Regions from separate parts of the Homo sapiens genome. Here region 1 is linked to region 2. Evidence: fine-mapped expression QTL. A gene starts in region 2. The other region holds a variant in brackets. All regions are shown on one strand. Distances are between the middles of the regions.

Region 1 (8,298 bases), 63 kb after region 2:
GGAATAGGAGAGGGGGAGTGAAACTTATCTGCATTTACCATTTTTGTGTAACTCTGACTTTTGAAACCATGTTAATGTTTCTTATACATCCCCTTAGTCAACAGGGATGGGGCGGGGGCCTTAAGTCGAATACAAACAGAAACATGAACTTAACTGTATTTCAAATAAATAATATAATCATATTAACGGCATGAAGCCTAAATAACTTTTGAACACAGTATGTTGACTCTTTACCTCTGGCTAAAGACAAAAAGAACTGTAAACACATAACTGGATTCTAGTTTGTAGGTTTCTTTTATACAGTGACATGGGTTAACAGTTGAAAACTATTTTCTCTATATTTTAGGATTGGTCAAATAAGTAAGTACATTGTGAATAATGGGAGCAAGGTTTCTAGGGGAAGGCTGGGATGAATATATGGTTTTTTATAGACGTAGAAATAGATACAGGGTGTTTCTTAGTTTGTCTGCTGAGAAGGCCCAGAAGCAGAGGTGCCAGTAGCAGTGAGCACACCCAGTACCCACATCTTGGTTTCTAAATACCGTTCTCCATGAAGAGGCACCAGATGAAGAGGCACGAGGGCTTCTTGGAAGAATGGCTGACTATAAGCCTGGGGCTGGAAAAATGTAAGATAAGCCTCAGACATACTGTGCTAGAAAGGAAGTGCTCAAAGAAAGATGGGGACATGTCGAGAGTTCACAGGAGTTCCCAAGAGGCACCTACGGGCCAAATCCAGGACATTTTCAAGCATCGAAATATGTAATAATAGTAATGGATTACAAACTATACAATAAAATAAAAATCTATAAGGCCAAACTGATAGGAATGAATACATAAGTAAAAGACAAGGGAAAGCTTTCATTACAGTAGAATGCCAGCTATTAAATGGAGAAGAAGTGATGGAAGTAGAAAATCCGTGTTTGGCAACCCTGTAATAATTGATTTAGGCGAATTTCATGAGAAACAGGAGTTTACATAGTCTCAAAGTATCTCCCTCCACTATACCTATTAATTACAAAGGGGAAAACAGTAACTTTACAAGGGAGAAACCTGGCAGACATCACCGTAACCCAGTGATGCAAAATTAACTGACATCATTAATGGATATCAAATAGATATCATGGTGCACTGAAGGGACACACTATCCTTCTGTGGCATCTCTTTCAAAACCGTATGTCCTGAATCTGATCATAAGGAAAAAACCCAAATTGAGGGATATTCTCCCCACCCCCCCAAAAAAAGGCTTTTATTCTTTAAAAAATGTTAAGGTCATGAGAGGCAAAGAAAGACTGAAGGACTATTAGATTACAGTAGACTAAAGAGCTGTGACAACAAAATGCGACATGGAATCCCAGACTGGAACCTTGGACTAGCAAAAAATTTCTTTTGAAGGAAATTATTTGGATGGTTGGCAAAATTTGAATAAGGCCTGTAGATAGATAGGCCTGTAGAATAGATACTAGTTTTGTATCAATGTTAATTTTATAATTGTTATAATTGTACCATAGTTATTTAAGAGAATGTCCTTGTTTGTAGGGCTACTTGGGAGATACGAAGCTTGCGCCGTTCAGAAAATGAAGGTGTGTGTGTGTGTGTGTGTGTGTGTGTGTGTACAGAGGAGCACCCGTGCAGAGTCCCCTAGTGTCCTCCCCCGTCTCCTACAGAGAAGGCACACCCCTTCCTCCGTCGGCCGGTCAGGCAGCTGTTAGAGGTGGGGCTAGGTTGCAGCTGGTTAGTTTCTGGTCGCCTCTGGTTTCAAACACATTGAGGATGAAGTCCATCCTGTGTATGTTTTAGGCCTGTCCCTCTAGCAGGACTTTGGGATCTAAGCACCACCATCCTTCTGTCTAGGAGAGCAGGGCCTCTCACCTTGTTTTTCTTCTTCAAAAGTATCTTGGCCGGGCACAGTGGCTCATGCCTGTAATCCCAGCACTTTGGGAGGCCAAGGCAGGCGGATCACGAGGTCAGGAGATTGAGACCATCCTGGCTAACATGGTGAAACCCCATCTCTACTAAAAAAATACAAAAAATTAGCCAGGCGTGGTGGCGGGCTCCTGTAGTCCCAGCTACTCAGGAGGCTGAGGCAGGAGAATGGTGTGAACCCGGGAGGCGGAGCTTGCAGTGAGCCGAGATGGTGCCACTGCACTCCAGCCTGGGCAACAGAGCGAGACTCCGTCTCAAAAAAAAAAAAAAAAGTATCTTGGCTGTTCTTGGCCTTCTGAATTTCCATTTAGATTTCAGAATTGACTTGTTAATTTCCACAGCTGAGTAAAAGAATGGCTCCCATATATGGCTGTACATACCTTTATTTTATTTTATTTATTTTGAGACGGAATCTCACTCTGTTGCCCAGGCTGGAGTGCAGTGGTGTGATCTCTGCTCACTGCAATCTCCACCTCCCAGGTTCAAGCGATTCTCCTGCCTCAGCCTCCTGAGTAACAGGGTTTATAGGTGTGCATGCCACCACGCCCGGCTAATTTTATGTATTTTTAGTAGAGACCGGGTTTCACCATGTTGGCCAGGCTGGTCTCAAACTCCTGACCTCAGGTGATCTGTCCATCTTGGCCTCCCAAAGTGCTGGGATGACAGGTGTGAGCCACCGCGCCTGGCCTTGTACATACCTTTAGTTGTGTTGTTTGTCTTCCAGCTTTTCAGAAGAGCTGGTAGATGAAGCTCTGGGTGCTGTGGCTGCTGAACTTCAGGATATGTGCGAAGATTATGCAGAAGCTGTGTTCACCTCAGAATTCTTAGAGGCTGCTACATAAAGGCTCTCTGAGGCGAGGCCATTTGTGTCACACTGGAGAAGGGATGGCACCACCCTTTGTTTTGGCCCACAGGAAATTTTCATCCTCAGCTGTCCATCCAGGCCCAGAAGGTGCTGCCCACTGAAAGGAAGGCAGTGCCGGGGAGGTCATCCTCACTTTGCATTTTCTTTTGTCATGGCAATGGTTCTGGAAATGTATGATGCAATGTATCACACTTATCAGTGCCCAGGCAACACAACTTGATTATGGCAATATTTTCAGAATGTGTACTTTTCCTATTGAAATACCATGTTCATTCCTCTGGCTCAGTTTGGTGATGAAAATGTTTTGAAAGATAATCGATACGTATATTTCACACAAGGATTCAGGTTGCTGTTGAACCCTTGCTGGCATTGATACCAACACAAGTGCGGCTACTAGCTGGTCCCATCACGGGGCCCCTGTTTTGCATCTTTGGCGATTTCCTGTCAGGACCTCTGGCCCTACTAGGCTGTAGACTCAGGGAGAGCACAGTCTGGCTGTGCTGCCAAACCTCTCCTCTGCTGCAGTTTATTCCAAACAGGAGCCCCCTGGCTGTCAGTGCACAATAATAGACACACATTTCTTCAACGTTCCATTCCTAGGTGATTTTCACATTTTTAGTTCCTCAGCATATTTTATTGCTGTGTGTTGACACAATCTGGTATAAAAAACTTTCTCTGGATTCAGAGGAAGTTTGAGGAATCAGGAGAGGACCAGGCCTTCTCCTGTGCCTGGGTGAAGGTACAGACCTCGCTGTGTCTCCGATGAGGTCAGAAGTGTCTCTATTTCATACCACAAAGGAACCCAAGTGGGAGTAGGGAACAGATGGATGGCGCGAAGACCTCTGTGTCTCCCCAGAGAAAGGAAGAAACTTAAGAACCATCATAGCCTGGTCCTCCAACATCTTACAGATCATGTTTTCCAAGAGAAAAGCCTGTGTTTTCAGAAACTCTGAATTCAGAAAAAGAAACGGAATGTGCGTAAGAATCAGGCCACTGCCTGGAAAGACTTTCTCTCAATTCGTAGCCTGAGGCTCAGTGAAGGAAACATGCAGAAAGAATGCCTGAGACGCCCCCAGGGAATAAGGGAACTCTTTATAACCTGTCCAGTGCCGTCATCTGGGATTTTTCTCTGAAGTACAAGAATTTCAGGTGATTTAAGCTGCTTGATCACACTTATTTGTGCAAAATTGATTTTCATTTAATGTTAATGTTTTCCTGCTTAATTTTATATAACTTCAGAATGTAAAGAGCTTCAAGGTAAATTACAGGGTGTTTAACCTGGGGAGTTAAATGTGTACACTTGAATTAATAGGAGCACCGGTTGTTGCTAGTATAAAGTAATTTGTGTGGCAGTTTGTACTGTGCTGAGTTTTTAAAATAAACCCAATATTTTAAAGTATGTGCCTATTTTAAATAACTTACATCTCCTTTTTTTCCCACAGGCAAAGTGAAATGTGATTTACAGAAACCACTGAGAATACTTTTATATGTGATATGACTATAGTGGATTATTTGCCACCCCTTCCCCCCGAGAAAAAAATTAGTGACA[A/G]TAAAAGCTAACATTTATTGAGCACCTACTAGAGCATTGCTCTCCGTGCTTGCCATGTAGTAACTTATTTAATCCTCACCTCATCTCTGTGAGGTGGAGAGCATCATTGTTCCCATTGTATAGATGAATAAAACGAGGCACAGGAGGAGATAATTTGACCAAACAAACTTGGAGTTTACCTGAGCTCATCTTCCTGCCTTTCCCTATCCCCACTCGGCGTGTGCTGGGGCAGTCCCATTCTCACACTTCCTGTTGCAGCTTGTGTCCTGAAAGGCCGAGCCCAGGCTTTGCCTTGTTTCAGGATCTTCCCACTCTCTCCTGCTCCTCCCACCAGGTGGATCTGCCTTTCTCTGACTCATGTGGGTGGAGCTTCAACCAGCCCCAGTGTCCAGGTGTCAACTTTATATCCCTGGCCCATCGCAAACATCCACAGCCAGAGCATTCTCCAAAGACACAAAAATATACTGCAAGAAATAAACATTTTTCTTTGCAAATGGAAGCTAAATCCTTAGAATATAAAAGTTCCCGTTTATCGCCTCGCAGCCAGCCCAGACATCTAGAATTTTTTGTTCTTCATGAACAAGGGCTGACCGTACATCATTCTGTAATTCCCTTCAGCTTTCTCACGAACTATTCGTGTACTATTTCAGAAGCAGAAACACACGAGTTCAGTGTTTTTGTGTTGCATACGCCGTCCCCAGTGTACAGAGACATGAAAATGCACTCCGAGCGCTCCACCGGCACAGCTTGGTCACACGGGATTTCTGTCTGTTTCTGTGCTTACCTCTAGTCTGTTTAGCTCCTTGAGGGCAGGGACCCTGCCTAGCTTGTAGTTGGTGCTCAGTAAATTCTTCTGAATTAATGAAAGGTGAAGGGCAGGCTGATTGACTTTATACGGGGGGGTCTGTCACATCTCATATAGTCCACAGAAATCTATGATGTCCTTTTGTGACCCCGAGATAGAATGCCATTTGAGAACTATAATTCCATCTTGGAGGTACTGCTGCCATTGCAATTCCAGCTCAGATGGCAAGAACTTGCTTCCTTCCTCCTAGAGCAGGGCATGGGCCTCAGCCTCATGCTGCTCCTGACCTTGAGCGAGCCTTGGTCAGGGTGCTCCTGGGGACTAAGCTGGGGCGGCCCAGGGACTGGAGAAGAAGACAGAAGGATGTGCATGGGAGCCCCTTGCCTCTTGTGTTCTGTTACTATTTCAGCACTGTGGTCCCTTCTCCCTCTGCCCGCCGGAGCTGGGGTTTGGAGGAGAGATGGTGAGGAGAGAAGCGCTTTCCTCACTCCACTTCCTCCCTGGGCTCACGGTTCCTGCTTTCCTGAAGGTGGTCCGAGTGTGTTTGTGTGTGTGTGTGTTGGGGGAGTGGGGGAGGTGGAGGCATGAACTGCACTGTGGCCAGTGGGTCTGAAAGGCAGAAGGAAGGGCCTGAGGGAAGCCCCAGGGCCAACAGCAAGAGGAAGGGTCCAAGTCAGAAAGTCCCCTGTGCTCTCTGTGACAGTGTAGGTTTCCATCACGCTTCTGTGTTTCTGAGAGGAGCTCTCTTTATTTTAGCAACGTGAGACAGTAGTGAGAATTCCCTGCAGAGCCTGTAAATTCAGGGGTGTCCACATCATCATGGGCTTATGATCACCACAGAAGTGACCTTTGGGAGGGGCCAGCCTGTGAAAGGGCTCCTGGTTCTCTGGGCTCTTGAAGAGCAGCAGAAGGGCAGTGGCCTTGCCCCACTGAGCTCCATTAGTTCAGGAGCCGAGATCTCAGATCTGTTTCCACACTGGCATGTTGACTGAGTCCAATAACGTGGGCCTGGATTGGAGGGGCTTCCACCTGACATCCTGTGTACTTCCTATCAGTCCTCAGTAAGGGCCCCAGGAAATCCCAGATAGGGACCCTGGGCTGGTTGTCAGGCCCAAGTGAACTCAGGCAACAGACCCAGCAGGATCATTCCCCGACCTGGAGTGCACAGCTGGCTTCCGGAGTCAGGGCTCCCCTCCCGGTTCAGCTCCAGTGCTGGGTTCCCCTCTTGCCAGCCTGTCCAGGACCTTGCTCCACCTTCCCCAGTCTTCTCCCCAAGCCTGCACCTGCCTTCCCAGATGACCCCTTTATCCTTTATTTGCTGCTTTCCCTAGAGTCCCCTTGGCTGTTCTTGACCTCATATACCTGGAAATCCTTTCCTTGAACCAGACCTGCAGGCTTTTACTATTTTCCCTGGCTCGCTTTCCATCCATCCAACTGGACTTCTGCCTGTGGCCTGGAGTTAGGTCCATCCGTTCCCACCACTAAGGCTGCCTTCCAGCCCCCCACCTTGTCACAGCTGGCTACTCCCCTTGAGGAGTCCAAGCCACTCGCATGTGCTGTCCTCTCTCTCCCTGGTGGTGTCATTCCCCATGACACTCTGGGTCTCATAGTTTTATCTCTCCCTCCACTCATTCCAACACCTCAAAATCCTTTCTGGAGAACCTTCAAAGGTCTTACCCAGTCGTTTCTGGGGCACTTTTACCCCAAAGAGCACCCTTAAATACTATCTCAGCTGAGACCCCGTCCACCTCCATGTCCTCTAAAACCCCTTCTGGTCACTGCTGTCCCTTTGCTTTCACTGCAGCCCTCCACCCCGTCCCCTTTTACCCTCCCGACTGGGGATCTCTCCTCTTGTGTTGCTCTGCGGCCTCCTCCACCCCCACACTTCCTCTCTGCCTGCCCCGCTGAACTTAGTCATGCGTTTCCCTTCTGGTCGGCTTGGCTCCCCAGAATCTCCCACCCACACATCGTTCCTCTGTCTTCACTGTGGGTCTTGGTGAGGTCAGCCTAAGGCCTCTCACTCCTGGCCTGCAGAGCCCTGCAGAAGGTCACCGTGCCTGTGTCCCGGAAGCCCACAGCACATTCCTGCCACCTGCCACAGGGAGGCCCTCAGTGCTCCGAGATAGCTCTATCCATGCCTGGCAAGTCTTGTGGACTGGGGAGAATTCTAGGGAGACTTCCGGCTCTGAAATGCCGCGATCACGAGGGGCAGGAGCATTCAGATCCCAGACATGTCGGCTCTGCCATCTGCCCTGCAGCCCCAGTGGTCCCTAAGCCTGAGCTGAATTTGACCGAGGAAGCCCTCAGCGGACACTGATTTCTCGAGTGCATACAGGAAGCAGGGAGTCCAGGGAGCCGTGGAGATCAAACTGGCCACCAAACTTGTGCAGCCACCGTCCTGTGTGGCCCTAAAGACCTCCCGGGGGAGAGTGGCATCTCCAGGGCCAGGCTCAATAAGAGATTTGGCTTTTCTTAACCATAATTAGCCAACACATTGCTTCTGGAGAGTTACTAGAGGTCAAAAAAGTTCCCTGAATGCTTTGAACAACAGCTCACGTATTAGCTGGCACTTTACAATTTATAAAATGCATTTACATATATTCTTTCCTTACATCACTATAACCACTCCTGTTTTGTATACCAACAGTAGTTCAGCTCATTAAGAATTCGAGCCACAAGTTAAATTCCTGTGTGATTTTCATGCCTTGGTTTCCTAATAGGTGAAATGGGGATGAAAAAATAGCACCCACCCAAGGTTTTTGTGAGGATTAAGGGAAATGCCCATGAAACCACTTAGAATAACGCTGAGCAGACAGTAAGTGCTCAATAAATGTTACCTATTAGACTCCCCACTGAGAACCTCGTAAGAGGGAACCTTTCAGCTTGTCGCGCAGGCTTGGTTCCGAAGTGTGTCCCTGGCCTCCTTCCACCCATTGCACTCTCTCTCCTGCTCACAATCCTGTGTCTTTCCTTGCCTCACCTGTCACACTAGACACTCGGCAACACTTTTCCTGGCCTGGCCTTTGGCTGCTCTGAGTCACATACACATCTGGCTTCCCCCTCCAGCTGGTCCGCCTGGGCTGCCTCAGTGGACGCCCTTGCTCTAGGGCTTCCGGTGCCACCAGAAGTTTCTAAACTGGACCGCGTCCTTATGGG
Region 2 (8,326 bases):
TGCTCCTTGGAAACCACAGTCTGGTCATTGTGTGTTCATTAGTACCACAGTGTCATTGCTTCTAGGCCCTGTCAGTACACAAAGCTCAAGAACTATATATATATGTATGTATGTGTATACATGCACACACATATACATGTTTATTCTATGTCTATATTAAAAGCCGTAAGTACATACTGATGTTTTCAATACCAGCTCAGTAACACAGGGTTCATTCTAGCCTTTTTCCTTTCCATGTCTATAACTCCTTTTCTGATAGCCAGAAATTTGGCTGTCCTTATCCACAGTATATTTGCTTGTCCAATCCTAGAGTATATCTAATTTCAGAATTGGTATATCCCTGTGGACAACAAGAGTACAATGTATGCGCATAGTCCTCTTTCACACTCACTTTTAAATGAAAGTTGTCTTTTTATCCCTATTGAAGGAAAAATGAGTAACTATCAATTAAACACATAATTACTAAAATATGTTCATGTTCTTCACGTTGGAAACCGCTAGAAGGGAATAGCATGGTTTGTCCCTAAATTTTCACTCTGCTTACCAGTTACTGTGTTGTGTGGTCTTGAGCAAGTTAATTTAATCTTTCTGAACTTAAACCTTCTCATTTTCGAAAATATTGAACACTGACCTTTGATGACTAATCGGGGAAAAAACCCTATGCTACCAGAGTGTACTAAGTTACTGTTATAGAAATGGTAGGCTACAAGATCGTTTTTAAGAGAATAACTGAATTATACCTTGGCATTATTTACCTAAATTATGTTGTTCATTCACTTACAAACTTAAACCCAGGTACCCTCAGTGTTTACACATGTTAGAGCTGCTCCAATATGAACACTTCCGAAAGGAGCTGGTGAATGCTCAGTGTGCGAAATTTATTGATGAACAGCAGATTCTACATTGGCAGCACTATTCCCGGAAGCGGATGCGCCTTCAGCAAGCCTTGGCAGAGCAGCAACAGCAAAATAACACATCGGGAAAATGAAAAACTGGATACAAACGAGGCACTTAATACATGTATATAATGTATTTCTTTTGTACAGTGAAGACAAAAAAAATGAAAACTCTTCCTATCTACCTTTATTATGGTAGCCCCTAGAACCTTTAGTGTGCTTTTTCATCCAACTTTTTATTGTTAATAGACTATTTCTGTTAAACCTGAATTGTTCTTTGATTTCCCTGTGGATTTGTAAGGTGTTTTTCTTTTTTACGCATTTAGCATAATCAGCTGATTAAGAATGGAAAAGTTAGGTGCTTTAGACCAAATAAGGCACTGGGGCATGGGGTAGGGGTGGGCCACCAAGTATACTGAATTCTAAGGCTAGCTGTTCCTGACATATAGTAGGGCAAGACCATCTCCTGGAACCTTACTGTCTCAGATCAACTACTCTACCACTCTACTCTAAGATGTAGTGAGAGTAGCGGAGTCACTGACCTCTTTAAATCATAGGACAGGAACTGCATAAAGGTTCTTGAATTCTGCAGGACAGGAAATAACTGTATTACCTGCTTTGCAAGGTGGCTTTAAGAATCACTGAATCACTGTGGCCTCACTTGACCTAGTCATGGCAGGACAACTAGTGGTTAGTTACTAACTGGACTCTTGACTTTAGAACAAACATGAGGAGCCTCAAATACTTGTGTTCATTTGGGAAAGCTACCATTGATTTGGGAGGTACCACAAACCAGGTGCTATGTTAAGTGCTTCCTTGAATTCTCATTTTATTCTAAGAACCTTGTTTATAGAAGAGAAAACTGAGGTTTGGACGGGGTGAGTAACTTGCCTGTGGTTACACAGCTAGTAAGTGGTAGAGTCAGTGTGACTGACTCCCAGCTTGGAGTTCTTCCCAGAACTGGGTTATAGAGTCTTTCCGGCCGCTCTCCGCCACCTGCCTCATCCCAAGTAAAGCACATTGAGACAGCTGCAAAACAAACTGCTTCTAGTGCTCAGGAGTCTGTTTTTTATTAAACAAAACAAAACTGCCTGAATTAAGCAGAGGCTAGATTAGAGGTCATGTGCTTTCCTTCAGTGGTGAGGTTAGGTTCTACATTCCAAAATCAAAGAAGGGGTTTCAGGAATATCATCAGTTGCTTTGCAGATGGAGATAACTTAAAATAAAAGATACTGATCTTTTGAGAGATTTGGAAGGTGTGCTCTGCACCTTTAGGAGTTTTTAGGTATTTCCGTCACCTTCAAGAATACGTTCCTTTGAGCCTTTACTGCTATTTCTGAAGACTTCTTTATATCTTAAAAATATCCATGTATTACAGGCAAACTAAAGGTTCATGGGCATTTTAATAGCACTCTATTGTTTAGACACATGCCAGTTTTTTTAACATCATTTATTGCTAACATGAATTCAAAGCAAGTATACAGTTTATTGATACTAGAACAAATCAGGACATCAAGACATGATTGCCATCCTAAAATCTTAATCTTCAGAGAACAACATTTCCACCAGGTTGGCCTGAAGACACTCAGATTCTACCAGTTTTTGAGGCTGTAAGAGAAAAACAGTCAAATCTTCACTACTTCTATAAAACGTTATTAGGAGTGGAATGAGTTCTGCCTTGAATGACACTCATCTTTGAACACAGAAATTACGCAATTCAGAAACTATCATCTAGTTATAACAAGTTTTATGAAAGAATCAATATATTTGCTGTAAGATGAATCACTAACATACTTGGCTCAAGAGACTTAAACCCCAAATACCAGGAAGCTCCACAGACTAAAACAGGAGACAGCAAGCCCAGTGCCCTCTTCTTCCCCTCAACTCTTTAATTTAGGATCCCAGGGGCATGACTGAACTAGAAGAGATGCCCTTACTTTTTAACCAGAATTATGAATTAAACAGAAAACAACTGTTGATGCAAATGTTTTAAGGAATTATGAGTCAACCTACTTTCTGGTTTTTTAAGAGTGACTTAACATGAAAAAGACCTAATAGCTAGATATTTACATTATCAGTTTATTGGGATTGGCCATAGGAATGGACTTTCAGCAGCACTCTGAACAACAATGGAATTGAGATGAAATGTCAAGATCTTTTCAAATCTGGATCCACAGCAAGTTAAAAGAGTTCTGACAGTGAATTACAGGCCCAGCATATTTAAAGATACTTACTGTTCCATACTTAAGTAGTGTAGGCACTGCTGTTACTTTCAAGTTTTTTCTGAAGTCATTATTTGGATCTTTCCAACTATTCGAAAAGAAAAAGTGATCATGAAAAAAATTTACTTGGTTTATTACAGTTTGCTTAATATTTGACATAGTCCTACATTTAATTTTTTAGTAATCACTGTTCTTGCAAACACTTAAAAAACCTTGCGGACTATGGCTTAATCTACTAATTACCCTGTGCAAAGTTTCAAAGTGTGACTAAGATATAAAAGTAAAGCCAGCTAAGTTCTGGGCTTACACCAGACCAAATTCGTTGAATTACCCTTACTTAATTCAGGTGGGCATTTTAAATTTGTATTTAATAGCTTCTAATTGTTTAACTTGTCAGACATTACCTTGTAAGACAAACTGGGTAAGTAAGTCCCTGAGGCCCTTCCCGCCTAAGTATGCAATTTGTGCACGTCTGCGAGGTAGATTATACATTGCCACTTACTAAGGCTTTTCTCCTACTTGGCAGTAGATGAACACACATCCTTCACTAATGTGCTTCAGCCCCTCTCGTACGACTGGTTCAGCTTTAAAAAAAGTTGAGATAAAATAATCGCACGTCAACTCTACAATCAGGCACGTATAAACTGTGTTCTTTCCCCCTTCCCCCAGTCTTGGTAAGCACTCAGACTTTAACCTGCAGCTAACTGAAGAGGTCAACACAAGTCAGGTGTTCCCTTCTGGTCTTAGAGCCACGTTAAGGGTAAGGACCAAATCCCAGTCCCGATTTGCCCCTGCACCACCGCGCCCGTAACAATGGAAAGCACATGTATTTGCTGACCAACTCACGTATCCTGTAAGACACTAATGGTACTGGGGGAGTGAGAAGTTTTAAGGAACTAGATTCCAAGATCATCCGGGTAAGGTGGTAAAAGGAAGAGCGCTCTTGGCAGGGCGGGGTAGGATTTAATAGAAGGAGACTTGGGGACAGCTCAGATTGCTCCGCGGATGTCTGGAACCAAGACTCTGCCTCCGCTAAGCCCCCCTTCTGGCCGTAGGCTCGACCTTCCTGCCATTTCCATTGGACAGCAGCCCCCGAATCCCGGCCTCACCCTGCACGCAGTCGGGGCACCAGCTTTTCCCCCCGGCGTCCTTAGAACCCGTAAAGTAGGCGAAAATGGTCTTGCCATTGTGCTGTTCCACGGCCCGGTGGAACTCCTCGAAGCCGGACACGCTCACCTCCTCATAGCGGGCCATTGGCACGACGTGCAGCCGCTACTGGAGGAGTGCACGTCCGGTCGCCGCGGTTGGGTCCCGCGTAGGCGGGGCGAGGCTGTTTCCGGGTGGGCAAGAGAGGGCGGAGCCTGCGGAAGCCAGCGCCGCTAAAGACTACGGGAGCCTCTGACGACCACAATCCATCCGCATGGCTTTTTGCTCTAGTTCCTCAGATCTTTCTGCGCTAGCTGCACTCCCAAGCCCAGGCTTAGATCTACCCTAATCTAGTCCCAGCCCCGACCTCATGGACACTGGCTGCAAAACTTACCGCCTTGCAACACCTGGATCCTTAAATAGTTCAGGGCCTCAAAGGCTCCCAAGCCGCCCTGCGCCTGTTGCTATGGCGACTGGGCAGGCGGCCGGAAGCGCGGCCTTGTTGGGGGCCCCCGTTGCCCGCCTCCCAGTAGCCGCGCCTCACCCTAGGCCAGGTGGGCTCGGGCCGGGGCTGGGGGGGATTCTGGGAAGCCGCATAGAGTCATGGACTTGGGGGAGAGGAGATCTGACTCGGAAAGCCTTTGTTGCTTTGTCCCCCCAGTTACCTTTTCTGCCGTCTAGGCTTTACGGGGGCCTGGGACTGGGGGCGGGTTCCCGAGACTGGGCGGGGGTGGGATGGGTGAGGGGCTCGGAGGGAGAAAGGCTGCAAGGCCGGAGCGGAGTGTGTGAGTGCGTGTGTGGAGCAGCTTAGGGAGCGAGGTGCTAAGACATCCCCCAGGGCCGCGGTAGGGAGGAAGGGAACTGCCCTGGAGCTATGAGCCGGGAGACTCGCCGTGGGGCCTTGCCCAGGCTGCGCCGGGGAGAGCAGGCGGCTAAGATGCCGGGTCGCTGCGTGGGGCCCAGCAGGTCGGGGCGGGGGGTTCGGCGGCCGTGGGGGAAGAGACGGGGCGCAGGGACGTCCCGAGGCCGTGGAGCAAGGCGCCGGGCGAAGCCCTCGGAGTGGGAGACGCGCTGTGTGAGTGCAGAAAGGCCACAGGGCCGTCAGCGGCCATGGGGGACGAGACAAGCGGCGGAGACAGCCGACGCCGCCGGGGCGAATGAGGCTTTGGGAGCTCCTGGGACCCCAGGCTCCATCGAGGCTGCAAGGGACCCTGGGGCTGTGTGGGTGAACGGGGCTGTGGGGGAGCCCGAGGTGGTGGGGCTTGCCGGGGCTGTGTGGGTGACCGGGTCTGGGGAGGAGGAGACCGAAGATAGAAGTCCCCGGGGCTGCGAGAGAAAAGGTCGCCCGGGATCTCTGGGCCATGAGAGCATTCTGCACCTGTGGCTGAAGGTGCAGGCTATGAGGGCCGCCTCGGGATGTGGGGAAGGAAGTAGAGTCGAGCTCCATCCCGTGCCTGCAGGAGAGGGACCTGTCGAAAGGGGTGTTCCTGGCCGAGCTTCCTGGGTAGAGACAAGCCGCGGCGGTCTTACAGGGCCCTGGGTGAAGGAACAGGCAAGGGGGATCCCTCGGGCCCCCTCAGGGCCCACAGCTCTGGGCTTAGGGGCAGCTTACGAGAGAGCCTTAGGCTTCTGTGGACAGGGACAGGCTGGGAGGGTGCCTCCTGCGAGTGTGCCTGGGGCTTTGGCGTCAAGTTCTGAAATGGCCCCGCACCTGTGGAGGGGAGAAGCTGTGGGGGTTCCTGAGACTGGGGAGGAGATAGGCTATGGGTTTGTCTCAGGCCCTTGTGAAAAAGAACAGACTATGGGCGAGCCTGGGACCGTGGGGTGGACTGGGGCTGTGGGAGCGCCCAGAGCCATGGAGGGAGAGCTCGGCTGTGGCGGTGCTGCAGGTCTGTGGGGGAGAGGACAGTCCCCGCAGATTCCTGGGGCTCTGACACATGAAGCAGTCTGTGGGGCCACCCCTGGCGTATGGGGGAGGGGACAGGCTGTGGGGGTGTCCGATGCTGTGGAGGAGGAGCCTACTTCTGTGGGTGCCGCAGGTGTGTGTTACAGGAGACAGGCTGTGGAGGAGACAGACTCTGTGGGTATGCCCGGCCCGTGGGGCACAGGATACTCTGTTGGGGTGCCCTGTGCTGCTGAAGAGGAAACTAGATGTGGAGGTGACCCAGGGTTCAGGGAAAGGGGACAGCCTGTGTGGGTGGAGACAGGCTCTGGGGGTGATCCAGGGTCACGGGGAGCTGCGCAGACTGCAGAGTCATCATGTCCTGGGGAGCAGGCAGCAGGTTCTGGGGGTGCCCCAGGCCTGTGGGGGATACAACAGGCTACAGGGGTACCCAGGGCCTTGGGGAAGGACACGGGCTGTGTGAGTGTCCCAGGGCTGTGGGGAGCGGGACAGATGGTAAGGGTGCCCCAGGCTGTGGTGGTACCTGGAGCCCTGGGAGAAGAGCTGAGCCACAGCGGGGGCCTGGGCCTGTGGGACGGACAGCAAGCTCTTGGGGGGCCCCCAGCCGAGGCAGTGCCTGGGCTTGGAGAGGAGACCTGTAGTGGGAATGTTCTGAGCCCGTGGGAAAGGAGGCAGGCTGTGGGGGAGCCAGAGAGTCTGGGGCCTCCAGCTTTAGGGGTCCCTGGGTCAGTGGATCAGGAGGCTGGCTGTGGAGATGTTGCATGTCAGTGTGGGAGGAGGCAGGCTGTGGGGGTGTCTGAGACGGTGGGCATACCCAGGGCAGCAGATGTGCCCCGGCAGGGGTGTGCCGCAGCAGGGGTCCTCATGGCAATGGGTGTGCCCGGCTCTGGAAAGGTGCCTGCCAGAGTGCCTGCTGCTGTGTGGGCGTCTGGTCCTGTGTGTCAGGAAGGCAGCTCTAGAGACATTTTGAACCTGTGGGAAAGGACTCGGGCTGCCAGAATATCTGTGGCTTCGGGGGGACCCGTGGCTCGGGAGGAGCTGTGGTCTGGCGGGGAGGAATCCGTGGCTTCAGGGGGACCCGTGGCTCAGGAGGAGCTGTGGTCAGGCGGGGAGGAATCCGTGGCTTCAGGGGGACACGTGGCTCGGGAGAAGCTGTGGTCTGGCGGGGAGGATTGTGGTTCTGGGGCCTTCCCGGGCCCATGGGGGAGGAGACAGACTATTGGGGTTCCTGTGGTGCCTGAGGGGCCTGGGCTTGGGGGGGAGACTGACTCTGGGGGTATCCCAAGACCCTGGGGACAGAGACAGAGGGTCAGGGCTCCTGTGGCCACCGAAGTCCTTCTGGCTCCTAGGGTGCCTGGTTCTGTGGAGCTGGAGCCTGGTGATGGAGGCTTTTCAGGCTTGTCAGGGAGGCAGCAAACTGCAGGAATGCCTGGCACTGTGGGGCTGTCTGCAGCTAGTGGGGTGCCCGTGGCTCCCAGGGTGCCTAGGCCTGTGCAAGAGGAAACTGGCTCAGAATTGTGGGGTGAAAGAGAGACAGTGGGCGGACCTGCAGATGCCAAGGGTCCCACAAGGATGGAGGTGCCCACCTCGACCAGGATGCCTGGGCCCATGGCGGAGAAGACTGGCTCTGGGGGTGTCTCAGGTTTGTTGGGAGGCAGACAGACTACAGGAGTGTCCATGGCTGTGGGGCTGCTGGGGTCTGTGGGGGAGGGGACCATCTTTGAGCATGTCTCTGGCCTGTCTGGAAGAAGGCAGACTGCTGGGAGGCCTGTGGCTGCTAGAGGTTCCATGGCCGTGGGAGTGCCCACAGCTCCCGGGCTTCCAGGGCCAATGGTAGGGGATACGGGCTCTGGGGATGACGGCTCAGGCATATGGGGAAGGAGACTGGCCACTGAGGGGCCCACAGCTGCCAGGGTTCCTGGACCTGTGGAGGGGGAGACAGGCTCTGAAGGTGTCTCAGGCCTGTGGAGAAGGAGACACGGTGGAGCCATTCCCGAGGCCGGGAGGGTGCCTCTGCCTCTGGGGGTGCTTGCAGCTGTAGGAGCTCCCATGGCAGGGCGTGCGCCTGCTGCGGTGTGGGTGACTGGGTCCTCAGGAGCAGAAGCGGACGTGGGTGTCTCAGGTCTGACCGTGCTGAGGAGACAGTCCACAGGGGGAGT

The links. PIP is the estimated chance that this variant, and not a neighbour inherited with it, causes the effect.
Region 1: its variant is fine-mapped to the expression of KIAA0753 in whole blood (TOPMed, PIP 0.98).

The regions. Positions count from the first base shown.
Region 1 is chr17:6,574,214-6,582,511 of GRCh38, reverse strand. KIAA0753 reads left to right here. Exons shown (of 19, transcript NM_014804.3): 19 at 2,648-4,365. The coding sequence ends at 2,765. Among named protein-coding and RNA genes, the nearest start is that of PITPNM3, 22 kb to the right of the region's middle. The variant A/G (reference allele first, on the strand shown) is at 4,338.
Region 2 is chr17:6,637,129-6,645,454 of GRCh38, reverse strand. It overlaps KIAA0753, which reads left to right and starts at 4,744. Exons shown (of 19, transcript NM_014804.3): 1 at 4,744-4,818. TXNDC17 (thioredoxin domain containing 17) reads right to left here and starts at 4,395. Exons shown (of 4, transcript NM_032731.4): 1 at 4,228-4,395; 2 at 3,621-3,702; 3 at 3,131-3,206; 4 at 914-2,504. The coding sequence starts at 4,372. The coding sequence ends at 2,436. MED31 (mediator complex subunit 31) reads left to right here. Exons shown (of 4, transcript NM_016060.3): 4 at 796-2,144. The coding sequence ends at 988. LOC122526780 reads left to right here and starts at 5,139. Exons shown (of 1, transcript NM_001396008.1): 1 at 5,139-8,326. The coding sequence starts at 5,139. RefSeq lists enhancers at 3,676-3,735, 3,936-4,205, 4,336-5,217, 6,116-6,185, 7,130-7,911 and 1 more.